Homo sapiens: one gene and its partners. The protein of the gene in region 7 purifies or fractionates together with the protein of the main gene of each other region. This does not show direct contact. Each region holds a gene or a part of one and is shown on either strand. Other genes may lie near its edges.

Region 1 (4,031 bases), on a different chromosome or scaffold from region 7:
TTGTAAATATTATTAAATGTCTTTAATGGGAAATTTTTTATGTGTATTTTACCACAAATATATACATATATATATATATATACGCATATATATACGCACATATATATACGCAGACATATATGCACATATATATACACACACATATATATATACACACACACATATATATACACACATATATAAATATTTGATGTCTTATATCCTGTATTTAAAGGGTCTGGCACAGTGCCTGGCATATAGGAGGTGATTTAAAAAAGCAAGCAACGCAGGAGCCATTACAAAGCTGGAAGTGCCTCTGGGGTTGTCTTAGCCAATCCCCTCATTCCTGAATGAGGAAACTCAGGCCCGGCGAAGGAAAAGAGAAAATGACCAATGTTACATAATAACAAAACCTTTATTTCTAGTGGGCATCCCAGTTAAGCCTTTTCCACACTTCTATGAAATAGGCAAACCAGGTATTAATATCCCCATTTTACAGGTGAAGAAACTGTGGCTCTGAGAGGTTAAGAACCGACAACCAGGTCTAACTCTGAGCCTTTGCTGACTCCTCTTCCATCTGACTTTGAAAAGCTGGAGGGCTCAGGGCTCGCCTTTCTGTATCCTTCCCATGCCTTTCTTTACATACTGACTATATAAATGGCTTTCTGTATTACATATATTGACTATATAATGGCTTTCTGTATCCTTCCCATGGCTTTCTTTACATACTGACTATATAATGACAACTCTCAAATTCCTGTTTCCAATTCCTACTCTTTTCTGAATTCCAGATTTGTATGGAGTCTACCTGGATGTCTAATGGACATTTCAGCCCAATACGTTCAAAGAACACCACATCCCACCCCTCCCCTAAACCTTCTCGGTTTCGCATCTCACCATCTTAGAAAACAGCTGCACTACTCACCCAGTTGCTCAGGCCCAAAATCTAGTAAGCATCTTTTATTCTACTGTTTCTCTATACCCATAATGAATCTATCACCAGGTCCTATTGTTCTCTCTGCAAAATATACCCAGACTGTGACCTCTTCATCATGTCCTCCACTAGATACCACACTAGCTTGTGTTGCCTTTGTACCTAGATGATGCACTTGCCTCCCAAACTGGTCTCCCTGCTTCCTCCGCCCTTGCCCCTTACAATCCGTTTGCTACATAGCAGTGTGAGTAATCTTTAAAGGTGTAGAGAAGACAGTATCACTTTTTCTGCTCATAGCCTTCCAAGAGCTTCCCATTACACTCCAAAAAAAATCTAAACTCTTTTCTGTAGCCCTCGAGGCTTAAGCCTTTGCCTTCACCTTCTAGCACTCTCCCCTTGGCTCACTCCACTCCAGCCACTTCTCAAATACACCAAGCTCAGTCCCATCCTCTGCCCAATTCCCTCCCTGTCACATAGCTCGCTTCTTCACTTCCTGTCTCTCTGTTCAAATGCCAAACCTTGAACACCTTGCCTCCCACCGTCCTGCAGTCTACCGTGCTTCACTGTTTGTTCTTCATCTGACATAATATTATTCACTTACTCATTCACTGCTTGTCTTCTCTACTAGAATGTGAGCTCCAGGAAGGGGGCATTTTGCTTGCCTTGTTTACTGCTATACTATAGATGTTCAGTGCTATTTGTTGAATGAATAAGTGCTCCCCAAGAGTTCCTAGCCCTACACCAGCAGAGCAGAGATTTGGCGGGGAGGGGAATATACACCCCTTCCCCCAGCAGCCCCTTACCTGTCTTTGTATTTGGACAAATTCTCTTCCTCCCAGGCAGTGTTTCCACCTCCAAAGTTGTCCCGGATGGTTCTCTCCAGGCCCTGGAAACAGAAAATTAGTAATAGCTAAGTACAGTGCCTGGCACATGCTAGCACTTCACTGTTCTACTGACTAGGAAACTGAGGCACAGAAAGGCAACCTGCCTAGGGCCATACAACTAGTAAGAGACCAAGATGAAACTTAAATCCACGCAGATTTGCATCCCAGAGTTCCCCACTCTAAATCGCTGTGTTCCCCTCTAACGAGGCTGCCGGTGCACCCACCTTGTTAAAGCTGTCAACCAGTCCCCGGCAGGTATGACACGGATGGGGCTGAGGCGGGGGAGAAGACTGGGGAGGTGGAGAGGGCTGGAGCCAGATAGGTCCTGGGAGGTTGAGGAAGAGGCTGAGGCCCCAGAGCATAGCTGGGACTAGGCCCTTCGGGGGCCATGGGGCCATCTTTACCCAGGCTGGGGACCTGCAGATAGAGGGCGTGGAGAGGCTTCACTGAAGGAGTCAGGCCCCACGCGAGAAAGAAAAAGGTCTGTTCTAAGGTGCCGTGGCGCTGGGATCTGCGTTATTACAAGCAAAAGAGGCCAAACTGGGTATTGCAGGGGCTGTGGGGATGGGTGGGGAAAGGCGCATAAGATGCAATTCCAGAAGAGAAATAAGTTATCCTCGCTAGCATGGGGTGGAGAGGAAAGTGGCCTCGCTCCTTGACAAGGGGGCAGAAGTCAGCCTCTTGTCTGAGGGTCTGATAAAGAATATTAGGGGCCGGATCCGCAGAATTAGGGAGAAGAGATCAGATTCCAAGTACTGAAGGAGAGGAGGCCAGAGGGGTTGTCTTGGGGGAGGTGTCCGGAACCCCGGGCTTGGAGGGAGGAGCCCGGATCCGGATATGAAGGGAAGGGATCAGATTCAGGGCCTCGCAGAAGGGCAAAGGCACGGCCCACGAGCCGGCAGAGAAGGATCCAGACCCTCGTAGGCCACGGAGAAGGAAGAAGCGACCGCCCCAGCCCGCGGGCGCCGTGGGCCGTCTCCTCACCGCGTCGCTGCCACAGCCTGCGTAAAACGCACAACCCCCACCCGCGCCGCAGTCCAGGGGGCGGAGCTTGCCGCCCAGCCAATGGCGACGGGCCATGTGCCATTACGTCACCCCACGCCAGCCAACCAGAGGCGGCACCGAGCTGCACCTGTCCGGGCTTTAAAGGGCCGCGGGGCTAGGGAATGACGTTTGCCAGCCCCGCCACTGAAACGGAGACGCGTGTGGGCCACATGGGTAGAAAAACAGCGTCTGCCTTTATTTAAGTCCCGTCCCCCGCCCCAGGTCCCGCGCCTGGTCCCACCCCGCGTCCCGGCGCGGGAGTCCCCGGGGGATGGAAGTAGCTATCCAGGGCTGGCTGAAGGGCCCGGGACACTTGCTCCGCTCTCTCTTGGAGCCGCCCGGAACGCGGGGCGCGAGGCTGCTGCAGGGCCCCCAGGAAGTCTGGCAGTTGGGAGGGCAGTGTGAAGACGGGCACGGTGCGGAAAAGGGCGGGTACGGCGTCCGGGTGGAGCAGCCTGTCGAAGCAGGCCCCCACGTAGCTGCCGGGCGCCCGGCCCTGCAAGAAGTCGGGCAGCACGCAGCTGAGCGAGGCGCGGAAGGCGTCGTGCGGGCCGTGCGCCCCGGGCCCGGACACCCCATCCTGTAGCCACTCGCTGCACAGCGCCACCGCACCGGGAGAGAAGAGCAAGACCACCACGCCGCCCTCCTGCAGGGTCTGGCGCCGCTGCGCGTGAAACCAAGCCACGGGCCCCTGCGCGCTCAGTTCACGACGGCTCCACAGGTCTACGGCCACGCGCAGCGGCAGCTGGCACAGGGCCGACGCCAGGGCGCCCACCAGGCGCTCGAAACCCGAGTCATCGGCTGAGTAGAGGAGCAGAGCCGCGCGGCCCCTGGCGGCCGCTGCCGGAGAAAACAGATGGGGAGGGAAGAGGTGAGCTGGCACAGGCCTGGCTCCCCGGGGGCGGCCCTCCGCCCAGCGCTTGCTCCCACTCACCCCCCGAGCGGACGTCCTGTTTCAAGAGCCTCAGCCACCCTGTTAGGGGAGAGGGGCGGAGGCAGCCAGTGAGCTCGGCCGCCGCTTTCCCTCGGAGAACTCCCACAGCCACTCTGGTCCTCCCCCAGGGGAATGGGGAGCCGGGAAGCGCTCACCTTTCGCGTGATCCTTTTTGAGAAGGAGGATGAGGGAAAGCGCAGCGGCAAAGAGTAGGCAGGCCAGCCACACGAGGGCCCAGCGCTTGTGGATGTCTGGG
Region 2 (3,500 bases), on a different chromosome or scaffold from region 7:
TTTTTAGTCCGGCATTAGAAAGAAATGAGTACTGAGAGACTCTGCCTATTTATATATTTATTTATCTATTTTTTTGAGACAGGGTCTTGCTCTGTCACCAGGCTGGAGTGCAGTGGCATGATCTCAGCTTACTGTGGCCTCACCCTCCCAGGCTCAAGCAACCCTCCCATCTCAGCCTCACCAAGTAACTGGGACCACAGGCCATGCACCACTGTTCCTGGCTTATTTATTTTTGTATTTTTTGTAGAGAAGGGGTCTCTCCATGTTACCCAGGCCAGTCTCAAACTCCTGGGCTCAAGCAGTCCACTCACATCAGCCTCCCAAAGTGCTGGGATTACAGGCATAGCCACCTTGTTTGGCCTCTCCATATTTAAAATTAAGTTATATCGAGCCAGGCACAGTGGCTCACGTCTGTAATCCCAGCACTTTGGGAGGCTGAAGCAGGTGGATCACTTGAGATCAGGAGTTCGAGACCAGCCTGGCCAACATGGTGAAACCCCGTCTCTACTAAAAATACAAAAATTAGCCGGGAGTGGTGACACATGCCTGTTGTAATCCCAGCTATTTGGGAGGCTGAGGCAGGAGAATCACTGGAACCTGGGAGGCAGAGGTTGCAGTGAGCCAAGATCACACCACCGCACTCCAGTCTGGGTGACAGAGCGAGACTCGTCTCAAAAAAAAAAAAAAAATTAAGTTATATCTCTACAAAAAATTATTTTTAATTAGCCAAGTATAATGGCACATGCCTGTAGTCCTAGCTACTCAGGAGGCTGAGGCAGATCGCTTGAGCACAGGAATTCAAGGCTGCACTGAGTTATGATGGCAGCACTGCACTCCTGCCTGGGCAGCAGAGCAAGACACCGTCTCTAAATAAACAGATAGATACATGTGGTATACTTTGACCCAAAGTTAAGGAAATTTTTAAATATTAAAAAGATGAATTTTTGGCCAGGTGCAGTGGCTTACGCCTGTAATCCCAGCACTTTGGGAGGCCAAGGCAGGTGGATCACCCTGAGGTCAGGAGTTTAAGACCAGCCTGGTCAACATGGTGAAACCCCATCTCTACTAAAAATACAAAAATTAGCTGGGCATGATAGCACGTGCCTGTAGTCCCAGCTACTCGGGAGGCTGAGGCAGGAGAATCCCTTGATCCTGGGAGGCAAAGGTTGCAGTCAGCCAAGATCACGCCACTGCAACTCCAGCCAGGGCAACAGAACAAGACTCCATCTCAGAAAAAAAAAAAAAAAAGAATTTTCTACCTCTTGGTATTTGGTATTAAGCATTCACTATATCGCTCGAAATGTGGCCCAACAAAAATTCATAACGTTTCTTAAAACATTACAAGAACTTATGTATAGGCCAAGACAGTTCTTCCAATGTGGCCTGGGAAGCCAAAAGATTGACATCTGTCATAAACCTTCTTATGTTTCAAGAAACCATAATCTGCATGTACTTGCATAACAATCAGCTGACTAAATCAAATGTTGGTCTACAAGGCTTTATTCCTTAACATCTCATACTGTTCTAAGAATCTGTCACTATAATTACAAATAGTTCTTTACACTGACATGAATGTATAGTGTCTCTGCCTTAGAGAAATCTAAAGGTGACAGAAGCATAGCATTTTTTAAGCCACTGTAATTAAATATCATCTGAACAGCAGTGTTGAGACAAAGTTTATTAAGAAATAGAGGCCAGGTGGGTGGCTCACGCCTGTAATCCCAGCGCACTTTGGGAGGCCAAGGCTGGTGGATCACTTGAGGCCAGGAGTTTGAGAGCAGCCTGGCCAACATGGTGAAACTCTGTTTCTACTGAAAATACAAAAATTAGCTGAGTGTCATGGTGCAGGCCTGTAATCCCAGCTACTTGGGAGGCTGAGGTCAGAGAATAGCTTTCACCCAGGAGGCAGAGGTTGCAGTGAGCAGAGATAACGCCACTGCACTCCATCCTGGGTGCCACTGCACCAGCCTGGGCGACAGGGCAAGACTGTCTCCAAAAAAAAAAAAAAAAGAAAGAAAGAAATAGACAAAGTAGCTACAAAAACTCCTGAATCATCTTGTTCTCACTCTTTCTAACCCCAACTCGGCATTTGACTCAAAGTTATAATGCACTCTGGCTTCATTCTTAAGATGCGACGCCCAGGTGTTCTGTTTTTGGCTTAGAATGTTAGAACTTATGGAAATAACCCTATTTCCCTTTCTCTCTTTGTCCCAGTGACCAAACAGATCCCTTTAACCGTAGTCCCCTCACCATGGACCAGATCCGGCCAAACACAGAACTAAAAGAAAAAATCCAACGGTGGCTTGCAGAGAGGAAACAACAAAAGGAGCAACTTGAATAGATACTGTGAACTAACCAAACCAAAACCAACCCCAGAGTGCAGATAAACAATTGTTTGTGGTTTCTCTCTTTCTGGTTCTGTTCCTTTTCTTTCTTCTTTTCTTTTTCTTTTTTTTTTTTTTTTTTACTAAATTAGAGAACTGCTCTTGCTGAAATTATGATAGTTAAGATTCCTAAGAACTTGACAATGCTCCCCTGGCTTGCAGGAAATTATACTTATTATAGCATCACCAAGTTTAGAAATCATCACTAATTTTCACCCTCTGTTGTCTCTTCATATTCTTCTTCCTTTTCCTAAATGAAATTATATTATTTCAACTACTAAAACTTCCCGCCACCCTGCTATTTCTCTTCCAATTACTGTTCAAACATTTTTGGTGAGTGCTGCTTTTATAAATATGTGATGTCACATATTTCAGTGACAGCTGATGTTATCAGAAAAATCCTGTTATCCTGTGTATTTACTAGTCCTCATGATCTAGACTTAACCCCTTTTCTGTGTTACAGAGTAACTTCACATAAAAGCAGATACCTTTAAGTTTGTGTAGACTTCTGAATAAGATGATAGACGAGAATTTTTTTTAAAAAAGGAATTTAAAGGAATCTTGTGCAACTTCTGTTGATAGCTCTTAATTTTGTTATACAGTCTTTTTAATGAGGATTGGTAGGGCAATCCTACCAATTGATGGGGGTGAGGAGACTGTTGGGCCCTTATTCTCTTATGAAAATCTGTTTCTACAAGGACTAGGCCTAAGTAGATTTAGGCAACGGGTATCATATCCATGAAAAATGTCATTTTAAGACACTAATATCAACAGTATATCTCAGTGTGTGAGATATATAAATACACATACACCCCATGTGCTTTTTTGTTGGTTTAGTGTAAACTGAGTACCACTTTATATTTTCTCTTCCATAGTGAGATGTATGCAGTATGTGGCCATGTTTACTAACATACTCATTCTTCACAAAATTCTGAGATTATAAAATGTATATAGTTAATATTTGTTTGAGCTTGTGACCTGACTTCTAAGAGCTACTTCTAACACAGCCTTAGGTCTTCAATTAACAAAGTAGGAAGTTGAGCACAACCTTGTCCACAGCCATTTTAAATATCCACTTAGCCCTGTGTAGTTGGTAGGTGGACACCACTTTCATAA
Region 3 (3,500 bases), on a different chromosome or scaffold from region 7:
AAGAGATTAAAGAGATGGTTTTAAATAGGTCAGGGAAGTCCATTCCATTCTGAAGAGGTAACAGTTGAGCAGGGACCAGAATGAAGTAAGTGAGTCACCTTAGTACCAGAGTCAGCAACTTTTTTAATGTGATAGGTTCCCTTAAACCAGTCAGGGAAAGCAACTGGTAAAGAGGAAGTGAAATCCAGTACACCTGAGGGTGACAGAGGAAAATGCAGGTGGAGATAACCATCGGACTAAGGAATCTAAACATAGGATATCTTGATTACAAAATGCTCGTTTTGGGTAATGCCTTAAGTAGGAATTATTTAACGGTTAATTTAGAAAAATGATGTGACAAAAGAAGGCTTCGCTTTCTAGGGTATCTGGAAAGAAAGAAACCAAAACAAAGGAGCATATTCACTCAACAAGTACTTGAGTGTTAGATTCTGTGCTGGATGCCTAGTCCCTTCTCCCAAGGTGCTCACAGTATCTAATGGAAACAGATGTAGAGCAAGTAGAAGGTCAGAAAACAAATTGAGCTTGCTTTGTAATTTTGCCTGGGGTGAGTTCTTCCAAAATTATCCCTATATGCTAATTGTGTCTCTGTGCTTCAGTTTCCTTATTTATAAGATGATGATCTCATAGACTTATTGTGAAGATTCAATTAATGAAACACCCGCAACAGTGCCTGTTTCATAGTAAACACTCCATGAGTTTGAGAGAGGAGTGGTAGTCTGGTGGCCGCTGATGCCTGTGCTAGTGTGGTGTTTTGGGAGGTGTCTTTGGTAGTGTGTATGATGATTGTCTTTATCATTAGATCTGTGACAGGCTCACATGTTTTCTTCATTTTCAAGATTTGTATCTATTTGTGACTCTTCCAAGAGCATGCATATCAGAGTGGAATTTTGGTGTGATTTTTAAGACTCTTGGGCTTATTTTGAGCAATCAATTTTGATGTCAACCTTCTTTAGACTTTTTTGATTATTATTTTGAGGCACAGTTTCACTCTGTCGCCCAGGCTGGAGTGCAGTGGCACCATCTTGACTAACTGCAACCTCTGCCTCCGGGTTGAAGCCATTCTCCTGCCTCAGCCTCTGTTACATGTGTGTGCCACCACACCCAGCTAATTTTTGTATTATTAGTAGAGACTGCGTTTTGCCATGTTGGCCAGGCTGGTCTCGAACTCCTGACCTCAAGCGATTCATTCACCTCGGCCTCCCAAAGTGCTAGGATTACAGGCATGAGCCACTGCGCCAGGCCCTCCCTTAGACTTTAATATACCTTTGGATGTCCACTCACAGTGCAGGGTTGAGCAGGTTGCCAGACTCTCAGGATATATTACATATTAAGAAAAGAAATAGTTCTTACTGTAGGGTCTCAGAAGAAAACAATACCCCAAAATAAGGCCTCAGAAGCAGCTGTCTCTGACCTGCTGCTGCTGTCCTCTCTCTGGCCTTGCATTCTCACCTGAGGCTAGCTGTAGAAACTAAAATCCCTCTTCCCCAAAGCCAGCCATAAAACCTAAACATATTACTCTAACTAGCCCCCACCACCTCCTTTCTATATAAAAATTACCTAACTTACCTTCTTTTATTAAAGGTCATAAGAACCTCATACCAGAGAGGGTCCTATCCCATACCCAGTAGGAAAGAATGTATACTCAGAGAGGACAAGAAGAATCTAGACAGGCCTTGCTGGGTTTTCCAACTCCATCTGTTAACATTAGATCCTACCCTTTCTGTCCAATCTTAATTCCACATAGCTATCTATACTTTGTTAAACCTAAGCACAGAAATGGGCACTTTCTCCTGTATCTTTACTGATCAAATAAATTTATATGCCTTTTCTCCTGTCCATCTCTTGTCAGTGATTTTCACCGAACCTTCAGAGGGAAAACTTTCCCTTGGCCCTTACGTTGCCCTCAGGGAGCTTGCTTGGGATTGTGATTTAGTCCTGACATTATGAAGATTTTGTTTACTGCTGTATCTGTGCCATCTAGAACAATGAGCATAGGAGATGCTCTGTCATTTGAGTGAATAAATCAAGAGAATAAAACTGGCGCAGTTTGATGTATTTTCACAAATTGAACACACCCAACTAATCACCACCCAGATTTAAAAAAAGAAAACTATCAGTGCTTCAGAAGTTCCCTTCATGCTCTGTTTTGTCACTACCAGGGATAGTAACCAGTGGCAGAAATTTGGCTACTTTTGTACTTTATATAAACAGAACCGTCTAGTATCTACATAGTTCCTATCGCCTGTTTATCTTAATATGATGTATTAATAGAATAATGTTTAATGATATGATTAACATGTAATTTTAATGGCTGCATAGTATTCTGTCATATAGCTACACCATAATTTATTTAATGAGTCCTTTATGTGTTTATGTAGCTTGCAGTTTTTCGCTATTAATAGGTGACACTATGATTAATAAAGATCTTCTGAGTGTATCACTGATTATTTCTTTAGAATGAGTTCTTAGAATTGCTGGACAAAGTTACACCATTCTAAATTATTTGACACATTGCCAAATTGCCCTGCAGAAGACTGTACCAAATTACATTCCTTCCCGCAATGAAAAAGAGTAGCCTTTTTTTTTTTTTTTTTTTTTTTTTTTTTTTTGAGAAGGAGTCTAGCTCTGTCACCCAGACTGGAGAGCAGTGGCGGGATCTTGGCTGACTGCAACCTCTGCCTCCCAGGTTCAAGCAAGTCTCCTGACTCAGCCTCCCGAGTAGCTGGGATTACAGGCATGCACCACCACACCTAGCTAATTTTTGTTGTATTTTTAATAGAGATGAGGTTTCACCATATTGGCCAGGCTGGTCTCGAACTTCTGACCTTGTGATCTGCCCTCCTCGGCCTCCCAAAATTGAAGCTGGGATTATAGGCATGAGCCACCGTGCCCGGCGGAGAGTAGCCACTTTGTTGAAATCACTAACAACATTTCCTTGAAGTACCATCATTTAGTTACAATCATTTAAGAAGACATTTGTCAGTTTGAATGTAGGAGAAAACTGGTGTCTCATTGCTCTAATTCAAACTTGATTCTTATTGAAGTTGAACATGTTTTCATAGGCTTGCTATTTGCCTTTTTTCTTTTCTGAATTATCTTTATGTCCTTCTGTATCATGTTTACTTCTTACCACTTTCTTTTTTTCCCTCTGTTTCTAGACACTGGAGTCAACTAGGTACCCTGTTCTTGTAACATAAAAGGTGATAAGAGTTTAGAGCCAGATTGGTAAAGGGAGCTAGAAATTTGAGCAACATTCTTACATAGGTATTTTATTATGCATCTGCTTTGGGTTTTGTACTGTGTAACACAGTACTCAGGAGTCTATTGGACTAATTTACATTAATGGTATGTGGTTAAAAAACCTATTTTTCTGACATTTGACTTCAATATATCTTGAAGTAGTTCTCTAAAAGACCACGATATGCCGTGTTACTTTCCCTCTGCAAGAAAAAGAGAAATGCATGTAAAGTAAAGCAGTTGAACAGAAGCAGCTTAGACAT
Region 4 (2,893 bases), on a different chromosome or scaffold from region 7:
GCAATCCACCCGCTTCGGCCTCCCAAAGTGCTGAGATTACACGCATGAGCCACCATGCCCCACCCTCCCATCATTTATTGAGGAATGAGGGATGATGTGGTCCTCCACTGGGAAGACGGGGGCTTTATTTTCCAGCAATGCTGATCTTCTTAGTTACCAGTGCTGCCTTGGCTCTATGATGCTTGGTGTTCTGGCTGCTGGACTCACATTTGCAACTGAGACCCCAGATAGCTTTTGCTGAGGGTTTTGGTAGACACTGCCACCTCATCTTCCAGCTGGATAAAGGCAGGGCCCTTTCTTTGACTCAGTTCCTCATAGAAATTTGGGAAATGATAGGGCTGACATTCCTGTGAAAGATGTGGGAATTAGCCCAGGTCTTCATTGCAGTCAGCCATCTCATTCCCCAGAGAAGAAAGTGCCATGGCTTAATTTAGGTTCTAATGAGTATCTTGTGTTTGAATATCCTAGGGCCAGATGGATGAAGATGTCCAGAAAGTACTGAAGCAAATCCTTACCATGTGTAAAAACCAGTCTCAAAAGAAGTAAAGTGGATTCCTTGGCAGGACACTGCCCCTTGTCATCTGTCTTTGTGTTAGATCCAGAGTTGTCGGCAGCCGCTGCCATTGTTCTCATTCGTGGTATGCACTGTGGCCTAGCGTAGCTTCTTCCCTTTCCAAAGGTTTCTGAGGACTTCTCCCAGGAGAAGACTGCCCGCCTCAGAACTGCTTAGAGACTTCAAACCAGCAGAGGTGAAAGTCCCTGTCATCCCTTCAGATTCCAGAGCTGGGATCAGCCATGCCCAGAGGTCTGGTCCTGATGCTGGCAGGGGGGCCCCCTCCTCCATCCCTGACTGGCTGAGTGGCTTTATCACCACCGAGTGATGTGCTGAGGCCTCCTGCAGTGAATGCTCCTTCCATTCCTGTACTCGGGCAGTGCCATTCAGCACAGGAGAGCTCTTTTTGCCTTTGGCTTTCAATTCCAAAACATGATTTAATTTCTAACTAAATTAGTATGGCACTAGTTATGAAGTATCTGCTTAAAACCCTTCATCATGATATCCTGTGGATTTAAAAACTCTAATTCCATGTTTTCTTCCCATCTGCCTTATATATCTCATCACCCTGCTTATCAATATTCAGTTTGATGAGCACTATTAACTAAAATATGAAACTTAAAAACAAAAGCAAGTTGTCCTTAAAAGTTCTTTTTTTAAGTAAATTGTTGACATACTGCAAATTTTCTATGCAAACTTGCCTCCTGCTGTTATCTGTGAAGCTCAGGAAATCCAAACATTTGTGTTTCAACAAGGGACAGTAAACTGTGTGTTTACAGCCAAAAGAAATGCCTCATAGTTCTTAACCTCAACTTTTGTAGAAGTATTTTTTTCTCTGTAATATTTTTATTGGCTCATAAAGATGTTTTCATATCTGAACTCCTAAATAAGTGAAATTACAGTAGATTATATTAACAAAATACTTTTTAGGTAGCCATGCTTGAGACTTTTTAAAAATATAACTTTTTCCTTAAAGTTTTCAGCTATAGCAAAAGGTAGTTATGTATGCCAGACCTAATATGAGCTGCCACCAACACCCCTAGAACTTTCAGCCATGGTGTCTTCAGAATTGTAGCGCATTTCTGAATCTAGCAAATCCTCCTTTTACCCGTTGAATGTTTTGAATGCCCTGACTCTACCAGCGCCCATAAATGATCTCTAGAAGGACTGTTAGTACCAATCTGTTTTTCAACTTTGAAGCTAAAAACCCTGATATGGTAATATTATGGTGCATAGCAGAGGTCTCGGAAAAAAAATATTTCTGTTCACTTTACTTTCAGGTTAAAAATGTTTCTAACACGCTTGCAACTTCCCTTATGGCATTAATCTTGTTGAGGGAGAGAGACAGAATCCTGGACTCTCCAAAGTATTTAACTGAAAGTAGGGCCTGCTCTGACAGGGCCCATGTCCCACAAGGCTGCTTGGCCTCAGTGGGTGCTTGGCTGTGCTGGATGATATGTTGATCTGTATTGGATAAGGACCAATGACAGCAAAGCAAAAATGGCTTTAAAGCTTGGTGTTACTTTTCTTAAGTTGTTTAATTATAGTTAAGCAATTTCAAAAATGCTCCAAAGAAATGTGAAAGGACCTTTTGTCACAGCACTTCAGAAAATACACAACAGCCCCTTCTGCCCCCGCACAGAAATGCTGCAGAGTATATAAAACTTGAGACATTTTTGTAGGATGCCTGACGAGGTGTAGCCTTTTATCTTGTTTCCGGATGCATATTTATTACGAGTACTCTGGTTAAATATTGAAAAGTTATATGCTGTAGTTTTTAGTATTTTGTCTTTGTAATTTACAGAAGTTATTGGAGAAAATAAACTTGTTTCATTTTGCATTTCTGGTGTTGATTTTTGGTGTATTCAGAAGCATATCTGCGTGGCTTCTGAAGATCAGTTCAATAGCATTTCAGTGTAATAGGTTTTCTAGTCTGTGCTATGCTCAGCTGGTATGAGTTGTCCGCACTGTCTCACACAAAGTCTCACATCATTTCCTTTTCCCAGCTCTTGGATTCGCCCTGAGCTCTGCCCTGAGTATCAGCCGCTTTGGGGCAGTTGAATCACAGTTGCCTTTAATTCACAATTGCCTCTCATTTAATCTGCAGTCTGTTTAACTGTTTGGAAGCCTCCGCTGGATTTTTTTTCCCTCTTGCTTCTTGCTTTTTTTGAAAAAGTAATACATACATATGTAAAAAAAAAATCCAGATACATTTTCCTGCCCCATTACAAAGACAATTCAATTAATTCCTGACAAAACTCTTGTCAGGTGAATTCTGGCAAGGTTAAAATCATAATTAAAATTGTTGCAGGTTATAATCATAATCAAAATTACATGAAA
Region 5 (3,500 bases), on a different chromosome or scaffold from region 7:
TGCAGGCTGGTCTTTCTTCCATATGCTTCGATAACTCTATAGGTATGATTTACAAGTAAAGGCATAGCCCCCATTAGCATTAATAGGATTTTACTGTTATTCTTTTAGTTTAAGGAAACAGATAATACAGTAGGTATTGGTGCATATTATTGTGCATTTATAGTGGGGACTTACGTAGAGATTAAAATGTTAATATAGGCCGGGCACGGTTGCTCACACGTGTAATCCCAGCACTTTGTGAGGCCGAAGCGGGTGGATCACTGGAGTCAGGAGTTTGAGACCATCCTGGCCAACATGGCAAAACCCTGTCTCTACTAAAAATACAACAATTAGCTGGGCATGGTGGCGGGCAGCTGTAATCCCAGCTACTTGGGAGGCTGAGGCAGGAGAATCGCTTGAACCCAGGAGGTAGAGGTTGCAGTGAGCCAAGATTGCGCCGTTGCACTCCAGCCAGGACAACAGAGTGAGACTACGTCTCAAAAAAAAAAAGGTTACTATGGTCCTGAATGTTTAATTATGAAATATATTGGTAAATATGTACGTTGTGAAACAAATTATTTTCTTTTTCTTAATATAGAGTTACATTTTTATGGGAGGTGCATTTTTTAAAAAGGTATTTACAGCCTGATACAATAGCATTTAGCTCTGTGCAATTTAAGTTAGTTTTTAAAAAATTTTGTTTCCACAGTCCAGAAAAGGCTTTGAAAGACTCACTACAACCCTATGAGGCTGCTTATCTATCAAAATCCTTATCTCGACTCTTCGATCCTATCAACTTGGTTTTTCCCCCGGGTGGTCGTAATCCTCCTTCCTCTGATGAACTTGATGGTATTATTAAAACTATAGCAAGGTATGTATTTTTTATATAGTGGCTTGCCATAAGATGACTGCCATATTTGTTAGTGATATATGATAGCAGTACCTTTTTAATTTATTTTCAAATTATTCAAGTAATTAGGCCCACAATTAAATTAAGAATTTTATAGTAAATGAGTGCACACATAGTAAGTACTTGAGATTCCAATTAATAAATAATTTAAATACCTTAAATATAGTCTAAAAACAGTCTATTATAATTATTCTATATCTTGCCAAGGATGCAAAGTAAACCTAGCTCTTTGTATCATAGTAAATTTCTTACGTTACACAAGAAATCAAATATAATAAACGATTTTATAAATTGAGAAACTAAAACATACAGGTTAACTTTTTTTTATCCTAAACTCCAGAACGTGCTTCATGGCAGAAATAGGAATATAACTTTGATTAGCTTGTGTTCGCTATTTTAAGCTTTTTAAGTGAATGTGACAGCTTTTAAGACTAAAAAGGGAAGATATCCTAGCAGAGGTGCCACCTGAATGCCTGCAGACAATGTAATTATATACTGTTGGCTTTAGACACTTATTTAAAAGTTATCCAGACCAATTTGCAGTTGAAATTATCTCAGTTTCTGTCATGACTAACAAGTTGTCATAATAGTAGATCTGTACATTTGAGATGGACGTTTTAAGGAATAAAAAATAGTATGAGACTGAGGTCTAAATTCTTTTAAAGATTTGAAGATGGTGATTCTGAGGCGTGGAAGAGTAAGACTAAAAAGCCACAGGTGGCCAGGCATGGTGGCTCACGCCTGTAATCCCAGCACTTTGGGAGGCGGAGGTGGGTGGATCACCTGAGGTCAGGAGTTCCAGACCATCCTGGTGAAACGCCATCTCTACTAAAAATACAAAAATTAGCTGGGCCTGGTGGTGCACGCTTGTAACCCCAGCTACTCGGGAGGCTGAGGCATCAGAATCGCTTGAATCCGGGAGGCGAAGGCTGCAGTGAGCCGACATCACGCCACTGCACTCCAGCCTGGCTGACAGAGCGAAACCCTGTCTCAAAAAATAAAAATAAAAAGCCACATGTATAATAATATACATAAGCATATCTTTTGCTGCAAACGTACCTACAAATTGTCTAGATTGCCCAGCATCTTGGTCCTAAATCTCTCCACAATTGCCTTGACTTTCCTTCTGACTATAGGTCTTAGTAACTTGATCTCTTTGACCTGTTTATGTAAATGTTAAAGAGGAATCTCTCCCATTCCTCTGTGCAACTTGACAATGCTATAATCAAATATAATCTACAACTGGAAGAATCATGCTTATGCTAGTGTTTAATAAAATTTAAAAGTGAACATTAACAAAATTATGTCTCAATACTGTATGAAAGTGCATTTTTGTTACACATAGTATGCTCTAGTATTGTTTCAAACTTTCAACTTCTTTAAAAAGAGAATCTGGTAAGATTTACTCTACTACTTTAGGGACAATAATTTTCTTGCTTTCCATCTGTATATGGGTTTCTATATTATTTTTAATTTCTAGTGTTCTTTCCATGGTCTTCGTAAAATACTTTTTTTTTTTTTTTTGGCAGTCAGATCAAATACCCCAATTAATCCAATGTTAAAGTTGAAGCATGACAAAAATATACTTTAAGAATCCGAATTTTAAAAATTTGTAATTATAGTCCTGTTATGCTTTTATATTATTTAAAAAGCTACTCTATTGAAACTAGCATGAATTGGCATAATTTCTACAGAAGCTGAGTATCTTTATATATCATGTGTAATTTATATTTTTAGCCTATGTCCCTTTAAGGTCATCATTTCCATTCAAGAGCTGTCATTTCCTTGCAGATGTCTGTGATATGCAATGCCTCTGCTTGCACTTTATCAGTATTAGCAAGAGTGCTACTTTAAAAATCTGTACACAATTTACTCCTTTAATCACAGACTGAACCCACATATGACATGCTTTTGTTAATGAGAAACTGGTCATTAAGGAAGCCATCTCCAGGTACTTTTTCCAAGTGCTGAAATTAGGGGGTAAAATGAAACAATGCAACCAGTTCTTGGAAGCAGTGAAATCTATAAAAAGAATAACCACATTGCTTATTGGGTTTGAGTTTTTATCTTGCTCTTTACTTTGTTGATGAATGATGTTGCTAATATTTAAAAACTGTTTTCATTTTCTCCAGTGAACTAAATGTTGCTGCTGTTGATACAAACCTCACATTAGCTGTGTCAAAAAATGTGGCAAAGACCATCCAGTTATACAGTGTAAAATCAGAGCAGCTTGTAAGTGGTTTCCTTTATCTGTAAACTTTAATGATTTTATTTAAAATTACTAACTATATAATACTTGACTAATCATAAATATTGAATTGACTATTTACTTACTTCCATTTTTACTGTAGTGAAAGTTTGTAACTTCCTGATGAATTTAAACCAGAAAAAAAATTTGTTAACAAAAAAATGGCCCTCCTACACATTGTCAATACACTTTCAGAAGACAAGCAAGTTTTATAAGGTTTCCTTTTTTAACGCATGTGCCAATTAATGGCCTAATTATATATTTTTAAATATTTAAATATTTTAGTAATTTACATAAATTATAATTATGCATGATCAATCAAGTTTTCCCTTTTGTGTGACCACTAACTCCATATATCATTCA
Region 6 (3,500 bases), on a different chromosome or scaffold from region 7:
TCCTTATATAAGAGCCATTATATATTAGGAAAATAATTAAGTTCTTATTTAGGAACTCCTGGAGACAAAGACAACTGATATCTACTTAAGGAAGAAATTATTTTTGAAATATAACTTTGAGTAATGTCTGCCAACATGTTGAATTAACTATATTATGAAAATTATCTTTTTTCAAAATTTTCAAAAATTAAACAAAATAAAGATTCTCTCATTCACTGTAAACTCTCTGAAGTCTCTCCATTATTCATTTAGTTTTATAGTAAGAAGGCTCTTGTTTAACAAAGACAGCATTAATTTGCAAATCAAAGGCTTGGATCTTTCAGGGTCATGGATTAACGATAACTCTTGGTAGATTCCCAACATTTCTGGCAAAGTGAGTGCTCTGCCCCCACAAAATTAACAATGTTTGTGTATTAATTGTATTTTGAAATGATTGTCATCTTACAGAAAAGTTTTAAGAATAGTACAGATAACTCCTGAGCATTACCCTTTGGCAGATGCACTTTATAAATTTTGCCACATTTGCTTCATCATTCTCTTTCTCTTCCTCTCTCTGTCTCTCATTCTCTCTCTCTCTCTCACACACACACACATTTTTCTTTGCCTCTGAAACATTGAGAATAGTAGACTCAGTCTCAGATCTGTCACTTCCGGCCAGGATGCTTTTAGGCAATTCTCTTAACCTTTCTGGGTCTCATTTTTTTCCTGTACACATTTAAGATGACATTTAACTGTTAGGGTTATTGTGAAAATCAGATAAAATGTATTGGAAGTACCTGGCACATGGTAGGCACTCAGTACACTATGGTGTTGATACTATCATTGTGGTCATCATGATCATCACTATTATTATTTTAAGCTTTGTATAAAATTAAAGTTCAGAAAAAAATTCTGTTGCTTCTATTGAAGTTGTCCTGATTCAGTTATTTCAAAGAACTTCTCTAAACTTGTTATTGGTACTTAGTTTTAGAAGGAAATCACCATTTAAGAAGAAAAGAATAAGACTTTAGCGCTGTTTTCAAATGATACCAAACTTCTGTTTCCTAAAGTTTCAGAGGCTGAGTTATGCATTCAAACATGTTAAGGACCTAGAAAAAAGGAGAGGAAATTTCTTCTTTGTAACAACTGAACTCTTGCTATAGACACTCTTCAACAATAGTACAAATGATTTGGTAATATTTTAACTTTATAGCAGGTGTTATTAGAAAAGTTTATTTTATTCGCCAGTCTTGGGCATTTTTGGATATGCAGGCTGTTCTTTGTTTTCATCTCAGACTTTTCAGTTTTTCATTTGGGCCTGAGATGCCAAATAAAGCACTTTTTAAAATGTAATACAGTAATGTGCTACCAATCCTGATGGCAGACTTTAATCAAAATTTTTGAACCTCTAAAACTGTCGTTACTCCAGTAATGAAACAGAAGCTTCTGAGCCTGCTGAGCTCCTCTTAAAAGGTCCCTACTCTAAAGCCATGTGTTTATACACTGCCAGAAAAAATAAACTGCTGCCGTCTCTTTATTGTTGTCTACCTTACTATTCTTTATGAGTTTGGTGTTCTGGTTTGCTTCCTCTTTGAAACTATGGAGGTTAGTGAAGTCATTTGAGATCTGTAATGCTGAGGGCAATGTTAAGCTCCCACTGTTAGTGAAAGAAAAGACAGAAAACCCCTTCACTGCAAGTCAGGGAAGAAAAGTAACATTAATTGAATCCTGCTGTATGTTAGGCATCGCTCTATATGCCTTACAGACTAAAAAAAAATCACATTTGTAGATGATCATGAGTCAGTCAATAGCAAAAGTAAGTTGTGTTCAGTGTACTTTAAGAGAGCAGCAAAGTATATAAATTATTTTAGAAAAATTCCAACAAAATGGCTAAAATAAGGTATTACTGTATGAACAAATAAGCTGTTTTCTTTTGAGGAACCTTTTGTTCCATGAAAATCCTGGTTAACTTTAGCTCTTGTCATATTCTGTTTTATTGTTCCATGAAAATCCTGATTAACTTTAGCTCTTGTCATATTCTGTTTTATTCTCCTTATGCTCATAGTTGTAATATTACCAACAATATGAGTGATACATTAATTTTTACAACCTAGCTTATGATAAAATTTATTTAGATGTAATAACATTGATTTTTATATCTAATTCCTATAAGGTTTGCCTCGAAGCATAAACACAGACACTTTATCTAAGGAAACAGACAGTGGAAAAAATCAGGATTTCTCCAGCTTTGATGATACTGGGAAAAGTAGTTTAGGTGACATGTTCTCACCTATCAGAGATGGTAAGTCTGTTCAGAGGATCCTGTTCTCTTGCTGGTAGTTAATATTTTTATTCTGGCTAAAAGATGTGAATAATAGCTTCAGTCCAACTCTATTCACGGATCAGTTTGCTAATTTTCTCCATCCCTGGGGTGGTATCTTTTTCTTTGCCCTGATATTTCAAATGTTATCATTGTAAAATATATGCTGGTAATTTTCACATGGGAATTATGCAAATAGCTCTCAAGTTAGCATTTTAATTTCCACAAAAGTTTCTTGAAGGAAGTTTTTACCTTCATAGGCAATCTGTCCCTTGTATCTACTTCTAAATTAATGTTCCTAAAATTTTAGATGTTTTGGTATGCAAAAAAGTCTTCCTAATTTAAAAAATTGTGTGTGTATAGGTGTACACCTCCCACCACCCCATAAAAAAGTTGGCATAATAAAAAGCAAATTTGCCAGCTTGATAAATAGAAGCATTATTTGTTATTCTTCATAGTGTCTGAACTAAGTACATTGTTTAGGTGTGTCTTTTTGGTACTAACATCCATAATGTTTTTCTTAGTGGAATGGAGTTACCTCATTGCTAACAGCAATATTAATAACATGGATACATTTCTAGAGGGTAATTTGACAGAGTTAATATATTCATACTTTTTGGCCTTGTATTTACATTTCTACAAATTTATCTCAGAAAATACTCAGAGAAGCCCACAAAGATTTGTGTATTTATTATTATAAGTGTACCATGTCAACAGCAGGATCTCGAAGTTGTTTCATCCACTCATTATCTTATACAATTTCATTTTTTACTTTAAAATTGTCTCTTTTCCAAATGTTCTACAATTTTATAGTCAGAAGGAATAAATACATACGTGGTGGTACAGAATTATTGAGTATCTTCTGCCTTACCCTGGCCTGCAAATTTCTATTTAAATTGCTAAGTCAAACTGAAAGAGGAAGGATTCTTTTCTTTCAGGATGAAGAGAAGTCGAACTACATCAAACTACATTGTAAAGGGTAAACAGAGGGACGGATGTAGGTGGAGAGAAAAGTGACTAGTGCTGGAGTTGAGAAAGGTTTCTGGGATTAGTGCTGAATTGCGAGTTTTGGCCAGTGAGACTCCTCTGGAGGAACTTTTGCATTGAAGAATGTACAAAGGGGCTTTTTGGAAGTGTTTGAGTTATAAATTAAATTCTCTTTAATAGTTTTTAAGACAAATGAATAAATTACTTTTTTCTT
Region 7 (3,500 bases):
TACTTCCTCTGAGCTGCCTCTGTGGGCCTCGTCAGCCTCCTTACCTGGCACCCCCTACCTACCCCCTTGTAGTGAATGGTCTCCATTGAGTGTTCAATCTCTAAGAAGACTGCTCGCTCCTTGGGCAGGACCCTGTCCGGCACTGCCCTGGATCCAGCCCAACCCTTGGGCATGCAATGGGTGCTCTACCCAACAGCTGGGCCAGCAAGAGCCTGTACACCCAACAGAGGCCTGTAGCCCAGGTCTGGACCAAGTGCTCACTCACCCTTCTTCTTGGTTTGGCACTTGACGTCCGGATGGTCAATGACCTCACACACGGCCACACAGCTAAGGATGGGGCCGAGGAGGCTGTGCTGCCACCCATGGCCATGGGGGCTGTATATGAGGGCCAGGCTCAAGTCACTGGTGAGGTAGGTCCCCTCTCCGAACAAGGATGTCTGCAACAGCAAGGCCAATGGAAAAGAAACACAGATGGTTGAATGTACAGTTGGCACGGCAAGACGACACAGGTCTCTCTTCAAGAGTTGTAAACACAAAATGTACAACCCCCGCTTTTTGCCCCAGCAAGACACAGGATCAAATAATCCTGTGATATCATCACAGGGTTATTACTAAACACATTCCTGCCTGACAACAGTTTAACTGATTGTGGATTTGGCCATCTGGCCTGGCAAACTAGCAGTTCCTTGTGGTCAAGGTTGAGTGAGAAAAACATAGGTATAAGCATCCAAACCAACCTCGGTTTGAATCCTCCAGCAAGTGGCAAGTTATATAAACTCTCTGTGTCTCAGTTTCTAGATCTACAAAATAATGTTACTAGTAGCTCCTTTACAAGGTTGCCAGTGAGGATTAAATGAGGCAATATACATACATAAAAGAGTGGGACATCTGGCACATCTAAATAAATGAGGGGCCAGTACTCCATTGCAGGCCTTTATGTTCTAGTATATAAAGTAATTCCTGTTACATGAATGCAGTAGGCATGGTTACTCTGATGGGCTTCAAATGCAAAGTCACACCCTTAGGTACAGGGAAGGGGTCCCACCTGAGAAGGGAGGTAATCTGAGTCATTACTTGGAAAAGAAATGAGTCTCTCACAAATAAATAAAAACATAAAAATTAAAAATAATAAATAAATTAGAAATTAGTCTCTTAGACCAGAAACTATAACAAAATGAGGGAGGCCGACATGCGGGGCAAGGTACGTTTTACTCTTTGTATTGGGGTTGACCAAGAAAACATCTAAAAATCTAGGCAGCATCTCCCTGGTGGTGCCCTCCATAAGGAAGCATGCCAGGTGAAGGACCTGTAAGTTGAGGCTACAGCAGGCATAGTGAACACATCTTTGCCCATGGTAGATGACCAATAACAAACCACAATTGCCAGCACAGTAATATCAAGCATGGCACTTATTCCTAATGATCCAGAATCCTCAACTTAACATTCCAGGTAGCTGCGACCAATGGATGGACATTGACGCTCAGGTTGAAATTCAACTGCTATCCCTGAGCCACACTATCAGTATCTCAAGATAAGTGGACTTGAATAGCTCACTGAAGAATATCTTATGCTCTGGAATTGAGAAATGTCCTTTTCAGTAGCACCAGGCTTCCAAAATCCTAAATCTGTTAAGTGAAGCTTAGGGGAAATGAAACAGACCTTTGCTTGGCCTTTGGGAAGCTCTTTGCCAAGTTAGGCAGGGTCTCCATCTCTCAAAAGCTGACACAGACCTTCTCCAATGACACTGGATGCCCTCTGATCTGACCCCACATCCATTCTCTGCTTATGCCATCATGTGTTCACCCTTCCTTAGACTTGAGAACCCCATGCAAGGCTGCCATGAGCAGTGGTGTACAAGAGTGGGAAGCTCAGTGTATCTCTGCCATGAAAACAGTATCAGTATCAACTGGCAGATGGACTCCCTCAAGCAAGCCCTTCACTGAAAACCCAGGCAGAGGGGCCATAGGAGGATTGATGTGCTTTACCAAAGGATTTTTGTAAGATGCCTCTAAGCAGCAAACTCCCTGGGGCACTAAAATGAAGGTTTAGTGTACAAGAGTATAATCTGCAGGCAACTTCTCCAGGCCAGCACCAGTGTAAAGGGGAAGCCCCCTGAATTCCAGTAGCCTGGACATAATGGTAAGCTGAGAGCCAGTGGTGGACTGAGAGCCAGTGTAAACAAGCCCGTCATCCTTAGCAAAACCCAACGACATTAACCAGATACACCAGGGAAATATCTCCAGTCTCAGGGCTGCAGCAGCCACAACTGAGCCCATGGCTCATGGAGCCAGCTCCTCACAGACAAGGCAGATACTGCCATGACTGGGGGAAAGGCCTGCAGCTCCTCCAACTACCCTAGATGCCCCTCCATCAGCATATAAAAGCAGCTACCTCTTCCTTGGTACTTAGTACACAAAGAGCCCTTTGCATACATGAACTGTTTTAATTCTCTGACATATAAGAAGGAGGGTAATGGTGTCCTTTTTTACAGATGAAGAACCTGAGGCTCAGAGAGTTTAATTTACTCAGGGCCATAGAGCTGCTAAGTAAGTCTCTGTAGCTCCAGGGTCTGTCTGTAATGCTCCTCCTATACCTGAGGGGTAAAATAAATGCCTGCAGAGAAGTGGATAGATGACTGTTTTGACTCATAAAAATGGGACAAAAGCAGCTCAAGAGGGGAGGGAAAGGACCTCTCCTCGGTGCATCTTGGCATATCCCTCAGTTTCTCCAAGGGCTGATTTCCTGGAGTGTGGTCCCCAAGGAAAGTGCTTCTCAAACTTCAATATGCATACAGATCACCTGGGGACCTTGTTAAAGTGTGGATTCCGATCAGGTGGTCTGCGCCTGAGATTCGCATTTCCAGCGAGCTACCAGGTGATGCAGACGCTGCTGGTCCAGGGAACGCACAGTGGAGCTAGGGTTGGCTACATAGTGGGATCACCTGGAGAGCTTTTAAAGCAACTGATGCCTGTGCTCCACTCGGAGATTCTCATTTAATTGGTCTGGGATGCAGCCAGGCATCTGGGATTTTTTATTATTTATTTATTTTATTTTTTAATTTTTGAGATGGAGTCTCACTCTGTCACCTAGGCTGGAGTGCAATGGCACGATCTCAGCTCACTGCCACCTCTGCCTCCCAGGTTCAAGCAATTCTCCTGCCTCAGCCTCCCGAGTAGCTGGGATTACAGGCACCCACCACCATGCCCGGCTAATTTTTGTATTTTTAGTATGGATGGGGTTTCACCACGTTGGCCAGGCTGGTCTGGAACTCCCTCAGCCTCCCAAAGTCCTGGGATTACAGGCGTGAGCCACTGCGCCAGGCCTGGCATCTGGGATTTTTAAAAGCTCCCCGAGTGATTCTAAATATGCAGCCAAGGTCGGGAACTATCTTTAAATCGACGCTTTTCAAACTATAACCAGTGCAGGAATCACCTAGAGATCTTGTTAAAATGCAGGTTCTGATTCAGAAGGTCTAGAGTGTGCCCAAGATTTTGCATTTT

What was found.
Region 1: the proteins of PARP16 (region 7) and CRELD1 purify together in Homo sapiens (affinity purification with mass spectrometry, with the first as the bait; one large-scale study listed by BioGRID). This does not show direct contact.
Region 2: the proteins of PARP16 (region 7) and UBE4A purify together in Homo sapiens (affinity purification with mass spectrometry; 3 studies listed by BioGRID and IntAct, with this or other methods). This does not show direct contact.
Region 3: the proteins of PARP16 (region 7) and B3GALNT2 purify together in Homo sapiens (affinity purification with mass spectrometry; 3 studies listed by BioGRID and IntAct, with this or other methods). This does not show direct contact.
Region 4: the proteins of PARP16 (region 7) and RAI14 purify together in Homo sapiens (affinity purification with mass spectrometry; 3 studies listed by BioGRID and IntAct, with this or other methods). This does not show direct contact.
Region 5: the proteins of PARP16 (region 7) and COG5 purify together in Homo sapiens (affinity purification with mass spectrometry; 3 studies listed by BioGRID and IntAct, with this or other methods). This does not show direct contact.
Region 6: the proteins of PARP16 (region 7) and NEDD1 purify together in Homo sapiens (affinity purification with mass spectrometry; 3 studies listed by BioGRID and IntAct, with this or other methods). This does not show direct contact.

The regions. Positions count from the first base shown.
Region 1 is NC_000003.12:9,932,603-9,936,633, reverse strand, and holds the start of CRELD1 (protein disulfide isomerase CRELD1 isoform 2 precursor), read right to left. Parts: upstream 2,801-4,031; 5' UTR 2,714-2,800; intron 2,584-2,713; exon of another isoform or gene 2,215-2,583; 5' UTR 2,196-2,214; coding exon 2,022-2,195; intron 1,800-2,021; coding exon 1,717-1,799; intron 1-1,716. Other genes in the region: IL17RC (interleukin-17 receptor C), read right to left, coding at 3,041-3,681, 3,776-3,814, 3,931-4,026. UniProt on the Homo sapiens protein: Protein disulfide isomerase. Promotes the localization of acetylcholine receptors (AChRs) to the plasma membrane.
Region 2 is NC_000011.10:118,394,100-118,397,599, forward strand, and holds part of UBE4A (ubiquitin conjugation factor E4 A), read left to right. Parts: intron 1-2,214; coding exon 2,215-2,341; 3' UTR 2,342-3,500.
Region 3 is NC_000001.11:235,497,953-235,501,452, reverse strand, and holds part of B3GALNT2 (UDP-GalNAc:beta-1,3-N-acetylgalactosaminyltransferase 2), read left to right. Parts: intron 1-3,500. UniProt on the Homo sapiens protein: Beta-1,3-N-acetylgalactosaminyltransferase that synthesizes a unique carbohydrate structure, GalNAc-beta-1-3GlcNAc, on N- and O-glycans. Has no galactose nor galactosaminyl transferase activity toward any acceptor substrate.
Region 4 is NC_000005.10:34,830,220-34,833,112, forward strand, and holds the end of RAI14 (ankycorbin), read left to right. Parts: intron 1-468; coding exon 469-546; 3' UTR 547-2,393; downstream 2,394-2,893. UniProt on the Homo sapiens protein: Plays a role in actin regulation at the ectoplasmic specialization, a type of cell junction specific to testis. Important for establishment of sperm polarity and normal spermatid adhesion.
Region 5 is NC_000007.14:107,280,921-107,284,420, reverse strand, and holds part of COG5 (conserved oligomeric Golgi complex subunit 5), read left to right. Parts: intron 1-688; coding exon 689-850; intron 851-3,021; coding exon 3,022-3,121; intron 3,122-3,500.
Region 6 is NC_000012.12:96,938,257-96,941,756, forward strand, and holds part of NEDD1 (protein NEDD1), read left to right. Parts: intron 1-2,152; coding exon 2,153-2,281; intron 2,282-3,500. UniProt on the Homo sapiens protein: Required for mitosis progression. Promotes the nucleation of microtubules from the spindle.
Region 7 is NC_000015.10:65,262,884-65,266,383, forward strand, and holds part of PARP16 (protein mono-ADP-ribosyltransferase PARP16), read right to left. Parts: intron 438-3,500; coding exon 266-437; intron 1-265. UniProt on the Homo sapiens protein: Intracellular mono-ADP-ribosyltransferase that plays a role in different processes, such as protein translation and unfolded protein response (UPR), through the mono-ADP-ribosylation of proteins involved in those processes.